Linked DNA regions of Homo sapiens: region 2 is reported to be linked to region 1. The links are microRNA targets in miRTarBase. Many come from high-throughput screens and were not tested one by one. Region 1 holds a microRNA gene; the other region holds the end of a gene's coding sequence.
The links. Region 1 holds the annotated microRNA hsa-miR-450a-5p (UUUUGCGAUGUGUUCCUAAUAU, at 1,661-1,682, opposite strand). A microRNA usually pairs through its seed, bases 2 to 8, with sites in the 3' UTR of a target mRNA and lowers its output. Matches are read on the target gene's strand: a 7mer-m8 pairs with bases 2 to 8, a 7mer-A1 pairs with bases 2 to 7 and ends in A, and an 8mer does both.

Region 1 (5,178 bases):
TTTAAGGAATATGATGGATCTATTTTGAAAGTAATGTCGGCCGGGCACGGTGGCTCACGCCTGTAATCCCAGCACTTTGGGAGGCCAAGGTGGGCAGATCACGAGATCAGGAGATCGAGACCATCCTGGCTAACACAGTGAAACCCGTCTCTACTAAAAATACAAAAAAATTAGCCAGGCAAGGTGGCGGGCACCTGTAATCCCAGCTACTTGGGAGGCTGAGGCAGGAGAATCGCTTGAACCTGGGAGGCAGAGCTTGCAGTGAGCTGAGATCGCACCATTGCACTCCAGCCAGGGTGACAGAGCCAGCCAGACTCCGTCTCAAAAAAAAAAAAAAAAAAAAGAAAGTAATGTCTAGTCATATGGACTTGCTAGAGTGCCAAATATGTCCTTGGTGGGGGAACAGTTTCCCAAAATGCTACTAAAAAGATAGGAAGGAACTTAGATCCTCCTGTAATGTGTCTCTGTCCAAATCAGTGCCACTGAGGAACGCTAAAACCTTGGTAGGTGCCCTTCAGACCATGGGCCAGGTACGTGACCAAATGGTTCCATCTCTTACCAGAACAAGGATCGCCTAAATTGAGGTGTCACATGTGTTCTGCAACACCAGAGTTACTATGGAGCTCAGCTGAATTTGCGGGAAAATGCAGGGGGGGCTTTACCCGCATCTGCAAGAAGTTGGCTGAGTGGAAATAACCTAAATAAGGTGTTTTCCTGACTTGGGCATATCTCAAACTGGCCAATGCGTCTTGAGGCCCTGGGCGAGCATCCAAGTACCACCTTCCTGAATTGCTACTAGAGGAAAAGGAGCCTGTTTCAGCTTTCTATACTTCTTTAAATGTTACTTTGATTAGACATAGATAGCAGTTTGTTTACTAATATTACTATTATAACTCTGTCGTGGTTATATTTTTTAGTTATACTTTCTCTTTTCTTTGCCAAGAGCAAATGAAAACACATTTGCACTGCAGATCCAACTGAAGTTGTACAAAGGTTTCCCAGATATGTTTGAAAAAGTATTCTAGGCCCACTGCTGGCCAAATAGGAAGTCTTCCCCCACCCTTATGTCAGGGGTTCATGCTTTAAAAAAAATACAAACTCTTTTTAAAAATAAAATGTTTTATTATTGCTATAAAAGCAATGCATTTTATTGTTTATGCAAATATTACTTGGAAAATACATAAAAGTATAAAGAGAAAAACAAACATTACCTATAATTTTATACTATAATACTGTTACAAGTTTTGGTATATTTCTTCCTAGACTTTTCTCCATATGTTGATACAAAACTATGGATGCAAAATGATCCCAATACACTTATATTACATATTCAGGAACATATTGCAAAAATAATTCTGCATCTTACATTTATCACAGAAGTAAACCACAGATAGCCGCTGTTAGATTTTTTGCTTATTCCCTCCATCTTTTCATCTGTATATTGATACAAAACTATACATGCAAAATGTTCCCAATATATTTATAGTGCATATTAGGAACACATCGCAAAAACAGTTTAGTATCGTTTTTGATTGCCTATAGTGACACAAGTCAGCGATAACCACCTCTAGACTTTTGGTATACTTCCTGATAGCCTCTTTTCCCCATATTATTGATACAAAACTATGAATGCAAAATGTCCCCAATACATTTATATTACATATTAGGAACACATCGCAAAAATAGTTTAGCATCTTTCTTTGGTCACCTTTATACCACAACTCAGAGATAATCACAATAAAGTTTTTATATGTTTCCTCCTAGCCTTTTATCTGTATGTTGATACAAAACTATTCATACAGAATGCTCCCTATATACCTATATTGCAGAGATGGGAAAATATTTTGCACCTTTTTTCAATCGCTAAATGTTTTATCAGGAGCACATTCTCATGACATGAAAATTACTTTCAGAAACATTATTTTACATGAAAGCATCCTATTCTATTGTACTAGCTAGCTACGCTGTATTTTATTTGTCTAATCCTTTGTTGTTGGTCATTCAGGATGTTCCTAACTTCCATCCTTAAAATATTGAAATGAGCATCTTTATGCATTTTTTTTAACTGGGGCTTTCTGTTCATGTAGTTTTTATGGTTTTTCTTGACCACTTGTGTGGACTCAACATACTAAAAATGACCCTGTGTCTGTAATGCTTATAGCAAAGTGTTTTCCAGTTGTTTGCTTGAGCATAAATTCTTTATTTTAGCATTCTAGCACAAGTATAAAATCATATACCTTATGTAAGTTTCAATTCATTCAACAAACATTTAAAGCAATAAAGACACAAATAAAGGCATTCCCATTACACTCCTATGAAAACACAACTCATCCTCCCACCCCATCCCATAGCAACCCCTTTCTTCTTTGCTTAGGGCCCACTTTCCTCCTGATCTTTTCATTGATTCGTCTTGTAATACTTACCACATGTTTTGCTATGAAGATGAGTGGCTCCCAGACCTTTCAGTTATCAATCTGTCACAAGTGCACACTGGTATCTCGTGACATGATGATCCCCGAGATGTCTGAGATCTGTGCATCCTTGACCGATCCCAAATTTCTGTATCACCCATGACCCCTAAAGACTTTTTAGAGAATTATATTTTGACAACATAACAAGAAAACGTGGCATCTCACACACACACACACACACACACACACACACACACACACACACACACAAAACCATGAAAAAGTAGAGAAAGAAGAAACTTCAGCTCTAATCCCACCACCCTTAAGTAACAAGTATGTCTGTTTTGCAGGTTTCCTCCAGGTTCTGCTCCTATTTTTCAATCATGGTGTCCATGTGATTTTGTGGCCCTGATTTTTTTTAAGTTGATATCATAAGCATTTTCCAGGTTTCTGTATATTCTCTATCATTATTATTTGCAATGGCTGAAAAAGGTTCCATTGAGTGAGTGACTAGATTAAGTCAACCCCTATAGCTTGACACTTCATTTGTTTCCTTAAGATAATTTGATTGAATCTACAGAAAATAACAAACATGGGACAGAGGTTTAAAATGAATTTAAATCATGCTTTTTTGGTTTGTGCAGATTGACTTGTACACGGCTGGGTAACTTATAGTCACTATTTAGTAATCCTGGGGCCAATCTTGGGCCTCACCCAGGAAGTGTCCAATGTATAGGCCAAAGCTCATCATAAGACTAGCCAGTTTCACCGGGAATTTTTGTAACCAAACACATTCACCTCCATTTCCTGCTCTGGTCACTACTGCATAGTCGGTTCTGATGAACAGGTAATGACATAAGGAACACAGTATGAGGCCTGGAGGAAGAGCCCCCAGAGAGTAGCCTCAGACAAATCCTTAACCTCCAGAGGCCCCAGTTTTCTTGTCTGTAATTATTTTTTGGACTGCCTTAACTCTGTTTGTCTTTCAAGGTTGTCACAAATTAAAAAAAGAAAAAAAAGAAAAAACAAAGTATTTGGAAAAGTATGTAAACACACGATACAAAGGCAAGATGTTGGGATACTGATGATTCTGTGGCCACGCCTTTAGAAGGTCTGGTCTTAGGGTAATAGTCTTGTCTGGATGGCAGGTGGGGGTGGACATGGGGGAACAGGTGAGGGAGCTGCCTTGGGAGACTCAGGCTTCAAAGCAACCCAGACTCTCACTGGCAGGTTGCTGCAGTGTTCTGAGCTCCCTGACTCCAGCAGTGGAGCCAAGGCCATGTTTCCAAACACCCACCAACTGCTCAGATTATAGAGCTCAGTAGTGGAAGGGGGAGTGCTCAAAGGCCCAAGCAACCACAGGAAGTGGAAGTCTTTCGGGGCTCCTCCCTCTTGGCTCAATTTACTATCCCCACAGGGGTTTTAAGCCTGGCTGAACTTGCCAAAGAGATCAGCTGTGGAGCTGGGGAGGAGGGAAAAGGTGGCAGATAGGTGAAATATTATGAAAGAGCTAGCCGATCCTTGTTTATTCACTGAGGAGTAACTAATGGGTGGGCCTGAGTGGGATGTAGGGGGGCAGGGAGATACACGTTTGCTACACTTGATGTATATATACTCTTTTTTGCTTAAGAGTCATGTAATAACTCTAAATACAAATGCATATATAAAATTCTAGGGTTATGAGATTAAGTCATACTGCAGGCCAATGGGAAAAAAGATCTCTAAAAACATATGCCAACTTGCATATAGCCAGACTCAAGTCTTTTAACTTCTATCGATAAACTCATTGATCTTCCCCAAACATATTTTTTGAACCTAGTTTTATTTTCATCTTACACAGCCTCAGGAAAGCTGCCTATAACTCCCATCTCATAGGCTCAGGTTTTCTGCAAATGTTGCCCTGAGCTCTATAGCAGTCCAGGATTCAGGGAACGAACCCAGTCCCCCGCTGCCCCATTTGCCTTGATGAGTTGATAGGTATGGTGTTTTAAAACAATCAGCAAAACAATTTGCACTGCAGAGTCCTTAGGAGTTTTTTTTTTAATTGGACAGTTGCCCATATTAACGGAAATCAAAAGCAGCATACAGTCATTCAATGTCCCAGCACTGGAGTACAGCCCACTGTTTTCCTGTGTGGGGTTCCACTTTAGTTCTTGTCTGTGTGCATGCATACATTTTTACAGAGTTGTGACCACTGCCTTTTTCTGTGACCCTGGTTATTGACATCTAGTTTTCCAAGTAACATTGACACACATCTGTTCAAATCAGTTGAGGTTCCCATCATGACTGACTCATTTGGCGGGAAAACCAAATTTACATGCCAATTGGAACAAAGAAGTGTGGGTATGGGGGAACAGCGGGGGGAAAGAAATGGTGGGAGAGGATTCCTTGGACTTACAGATCATAAAACATTTCCCAATAACATTTTTAAAGGATGTATAATATTACACTGAGTGATTGATTATATATTACCCTTCTATTTGGGACACTTGGGTGGTTTTCAATGCCTAGAGTTTTAAAATGCATATAAATTACAGCCTTTGAGAGATGATTGTATTTTCTTGAAACAGGAGTCTTCTGTGTCCAGGTCCCCGCCAACAGTGTTGATGTAGTGTTCCTTTGTTGGGGGGAAAAAAAATCAGTACTGCTAACTGGAGATGCTGGATGCCTTCAAGAAAAACATTCCTGTGATTTAAATTTTTAAAAAATTATGTTCAATTCTGGTTTATCAAACAACCTGGGTATCTTGTCTCACAACTTACCGAAA
Region 2 (5,000 bases), not on the chromosome of region 1:
CCATAATGGGGAATTCCATTGACACAGTCAGATATGGCAAAGAATCAGATTTAGGGGATGTTAGTGAAGAACATGGTGAATGGAATAAGGAAAGCTCAAATAACGAGCAGGACAATAGTCTGCTTGAACAGTATTTAACTTCAGTTCAACAGCTGGAAGATGCTGATGAGAGGACCAATTTTGATACAGAGACAAGAGATAGCAAACTTCACATTGCTTGTTTCCCAGTACAGTTAGATACATTGTCTGACGGTGCTTCTGTAGATGAGAGTCATGGCATATCTCCTCCTTTGCAAGGTGAAATTAGCCAGACACAAGAGAATTCTAAATTAAATGCAGAAGTTCAGGGGCAGCAGCCAGAATGTGATTCTACATTTCAGCTATTGCATGTTGGTGTTACTGTGTAGCATGTCTTTTGGGAGGCAGATATCCACTTAACTTTTCTTAAAAATACTTTCAGTTGCCTTTGCTTTTTTTTGGAGGGAAATACTCCCTACCCCTAATTTTGTTACTACTTATATAGAATTTGTATTCATGTCTTATATTTTTCAGATTCTAGATATTGAGCTGAGTTTTCATTTTGATTTTGTTAGCTTTTTACTTAGCTGTAAGGTACCAAACTATTTATATTGAAAGCTATATGCACTTTATTTCTTAACTGAATTGCATCAACAATGTTCCTGTTTCTTTCATGTACTCATTTACTTTCAAAAATAAGCTAGAATATATTAAAGAAAATAGAAAAAATTACCTTAAATATATAAATAAGAGAATTTTGGCCCTTCTGTGTCTGAGAAAATTAATTATATAGCAAGGAATGAAATTTGATAAAGCAAATATAAATGAGAAATATGAGGATTGTGAATTATTGAAATTTGCCAGTCTCCCTGGTGTAAAATGTTTTTTTAAAGCCTTTTTTCCTCCTTTCGGAGTCAAGGAAAGCCTTTCTATAAGCAAATTAAGGAAGAAAAGGTAGGATTATAAGATTTCTCAATGGGGATGATTAAATTGTCTCATGGAAAACTTCAGTTAATGTCATGCATCAGTTTTAACATATGAAGTAAAGTGTTCTATCCAGGATTAAAGTCAAGTTTACTTAGGCAACACAAGAATATTTCACTTAGATATGAAGAAAGGAAACACTAGTCTCCATTCACTTGAAATACTCTCATGGCAAATATTTATCCTCTCATTAAGTGCTTTTTCACCCTATAGGTAAGCATTTTTGTGCCAACATGTTGTCAGAAATTAATGTATGTTCATCTCCTCTGTTCCTGCTTATTTTTACTTATATATTTCAGCAGAAGGTCCGTGGCCATTCACTTCAATTTTGACCTCTGTCCCATAGTGAAGAACATTTAAAGTAATACTACTGGTCGAATATGAATGACTTTTTAGGAACTACTTTTTGTCTAACCTGAAAAAGTTCCACATTTGGAAGACAATTTAATGATGGTGAAGAAATAATAAACCTCACTTTACTTGTTAAAAGGGATATATATATATATATATATGTCTGCAACTTCAGGGAGAAATAAGATTGTGTTTGAATATTGTAGGTAGATGCATTTGTAATTAAGGATAATATCGTTTAACAACATGTATTTGGTTTCCCTCAACTTACAGACATACAGCTATTTAAAACTATGGCAATACTTAAGCATCTCTAAATTTAGGTGCTAAATATCTATTATTCTGTTGTAGTCATTAGGTGCCCTTCTCTGAAGTTATGTAAAATAAAAGCATCTGATCCTTCAAGGATAAAGTTGAGGATCACATGGTACGTGGCATTTGTTGTTATTGTTTTTTAAAGAGATGGAGGCTGGCTCTGTTGGTGCGGTGCCATGATCATAGTTCACTATAACCTCGAACTCCTGGCTCAAGTGATCTCCCACTTCAGCCTCCCGAGTATCTGGGATTATAAGCAAGAGCCACTGCTCCCAGCTCATGGTATTTGTTGATAGTCATAACATTTTTCCTGTATGGTAAGACGTATTTTTCTCAGTTTATAAATACGTAGCACTCAGGTTGAGACGACTTGGATTTTATTCTTAGAAATCCAGAATCCCTTGAAAAGGAAATATTTTCTGTTTCTTATAAATAAAAGAGTAATCTTACTTTCAGAAGGATTTTCCTTAGTGAAACATGTGTAACATTGAATGCATGTTAAATAAAAATGGAATTTCTAACTTTTTTTCAATAGTGCTAATTATCTTTTCTGAATGATTTTGAATGTCTTCTTAAATATACCCTATTTTTCTATTTTAAAGTTAAGTGCCTCACTTGCTGTCCATAGTTAGACAAAGAAAAACCAATTTCCACTGCACTAGTACCAAAATACTACTTTATACATTAGTTTTTCATAAAAGCTGCTGGAATGTCATGATTCAGTATTACCTAAATAGATTTCTGCTAAAATCCTCTCCCTCCTGTCTTTTTTAAGTTATGGAAAAACACAACTAAATTCATTTGATCATCAGCACTTGTTAGCAGGATTTCCTTTTTTACCTTTGCCTTGTTTCTTTAGCCCACAAATAGTACTCAGCATACTTTCATTAAAAATTTGGCACAATATGATAATTGTTAATATTCTGTTCTTCGTCTGTGTTTTATTTAACTTTTACTAGTGTTTAGAAGTGCAAGAATATTAAATAGCCCCTTCCTTAACTGTACATATTATCTTGAATGTAGATAAAATGAAAATACTGTAAATTAGAGTGTAGGAAAACTGGCATAGAGTTAATATATTTTAATGGGTTTACATTATACTTTAAAAGTAATTTATATAATTAAAATATTTGGTTTTAACTCTATGGGCTATTCTTTGGTTGGCTGAAGAGGGAATGGGTCTAGTAAGGTTTGGAAAGTTAAGCTTTGAACATGGTCTTTGTGTTTTTTTCCTAACAAGGAAAGGTTTAGTTCAGCTGTGCTATTTTAGTACACATCAGTTCTCTTGATTTATGGAAGATTCAGTTTATCAATTAAGAATTCCTGCAGAAGCACAGAATCATACCATGTAAGAGTTGGAAGGAAGCTTAAGAGATTTCTGTTCGAATCTCTTTGTTTCAAAGATGAAACTAAAGCACAGCATGTTAAATGACTTGTCTAAGTTATAGCTAGTTAGTAGTAAATAAACTGAAAACCTATATGCTACTGTAGTCCAAAATTTTATTATGTCCTCTTAATCTTTACATTTAGTGAGTCAGTAAGGAAATCTCTGCATATTTCTCATTCTCTTTGAAAGAGGAAAAAAACTTCTAAGAGAGCTACAACTCTATCACTCATGACAGAGTTGCTTGTAGAAAATAACTAATTCCTTCAGAACCCTGAGTGAATTTTTTCTAAGAAATGTGACTTGATTAAAATGGTTTCAAAAGAGCAATAGTGGAAATTAAAGTTTTAGAAAAGAGACCTGGCGTGGTGGTTGACAACTGTAATCCCAGTGCTTTGGGAGGCTGAGGCCAGAGGATCACTTGAGGCCAGGAGTTCAAGACCAGCCTGGACAACATAGCAAGACCCCCCTCTCTACAAAAAAAATTTTTTTCTGAAAAGAATAAGTACATTTTAGAGTCCATTTATTTGACGACAGGCAGTATGACAGGTTGCTGAGGTATATAAAATTTTCTAGAGAAATGCTGAGTTTGATGACATTTTATCTTCAGTTTTGTAGAACAGATGTTAAAATGTTAACTCTCCTGGTGTGCAGAAAGCTGTAATCATGACAGTTGATAATATGCAATTTAGTTTGATTTTATAGGTTTAATTATAAAAGGCTTCACAATATGCATGTTTTAGGAAAATGTTCATTTATTTAGTCATATAATCGTTTGTATATATGTAAATAACTTTATTCTGGAATAATGTGGGTGCCATCTTGAGCGTGTGTTTTTATCTGTTTTGGATTATTTTTTGTATACAAACACCATAATACTGTATTTTCCTGTTATCTACTTAAGTCTAGTTCTACTTTTTCCCAATAATTTCAGGAAAATACAAGCTTGAGATATTATACTATCTCCCTTGGTATTTTTTGTGTGCAAAGTCTTAGAATTGGATTTATAACATTGATAATAAAAATATAAAACGTTTTTCCTCGGGAGTTAAGATGGTAAAAAGAAAAAAATAGAATGAATATGATCATTTCTCCATCATAAAGGAAAGAAGAGACTTCATTGTGTGTGTGTTTTTTTTTTTTTTTTCGAGATAGAGTTTCACTGTTGTCACCCAGGCTGGTCTCAGCTCACTGCAACCTCCACTTCCTGGGTACAAGCGATTCTCCTGCCTCAGCTTCCTGTGTAGCTGGGATTACAGGTGTGCAACCACAAGGCTCGGCTAATTTTTTTGTATTTTTAGTAGAGATGGGGTTTCACCATGTTGGCCAGGCTGGTCTCGAACTCCTGACCTCAAGTGATCCACCCACCTCGGCCTCGCAAAGTGCTGAGATTACAGGTGTGAGCCACTGTGCCCAGCCGAGACTTCATTGTTTAATGTATATTTTTATTTTTTCCAAACACCAGCTCGAATCAGAGTATATTTTTATTTTGCCACATACCTTTAAAAGGTATTTATTGTGTCATAATGTTTTAAATGTTAAATATATGATACCCTCATTCATGAAGTGAAGCAGAAAGGGTCTGTAAGGAACATTCTAAACATTTTTAATGATATTGCTTTTACTGATCAAGCTTGTTGTGCCATATTAAAATTAAAAGTCAAATAAACAAAGCAGTCCTCACAGCCTTGGAAAGAAATAGATAATTGTCTTCTTAAGATGAGGTGCTTTTTATCTGTGGATGAATGGAAATCACACTGAATTTTAATTCTTATTTATTTTAGTGGATAGCAGGAATCACTCTGTAGTAGTTGTGTTCATTTTCTTTTCTTTTTCTTTTCTTTTTTTTGAGAGAGTCTCGCTCTGTCACCAGGCTGGAGTGCAGTGGCGTGATCTCGGCTCACTGCAACCTCCATCTCCTGGGTTCAAGTGATTCTCCTGCCTCATC

Region 2: miRTarBase lists CEP97 as a target of hsa-miR-450a-5p. Seed matches in the 3' UTR shown: 7mer-m8 at 4,428-4,434.

The regions. Positions count from the first base shown.
Region 1 is chrX:134,538,904-134,544,081 of GRCh38, forward strand. MIR450A2 (microRNA 450a-2) reads right to left here and starts at 1,704; the gene lies at 1,605-1,704. MIR450B (microRNA 450b) reads right to left here and starts at 1,359; the gene lies at 1,282-1,359. MIR450A1 (microRNA 450a-1) reads right to left here and starts at 1,528; the gene lies at 1,438-1,528. MIR542 (microRNA 542) reads right to left here and starts at 2,534; the gene lies at 2,438-2,534. It also overlaps MIR503HG.
Region 2 is chr3:101,765,145-101,770,144 of GRCh38, forward strand. It overlaps CEP97 (centrosomal protein 97), which reads left to right. Exons shown (of 11, transcript NM_024548.4): 11 at 1-5,000. The coding sequence ends at 407. Among named protein-coding and RNA genes, the nearest start is that of NXPE3, 12 kb to the right of the region's middle. RefSeq lists an enhancer at 4,405-4,484.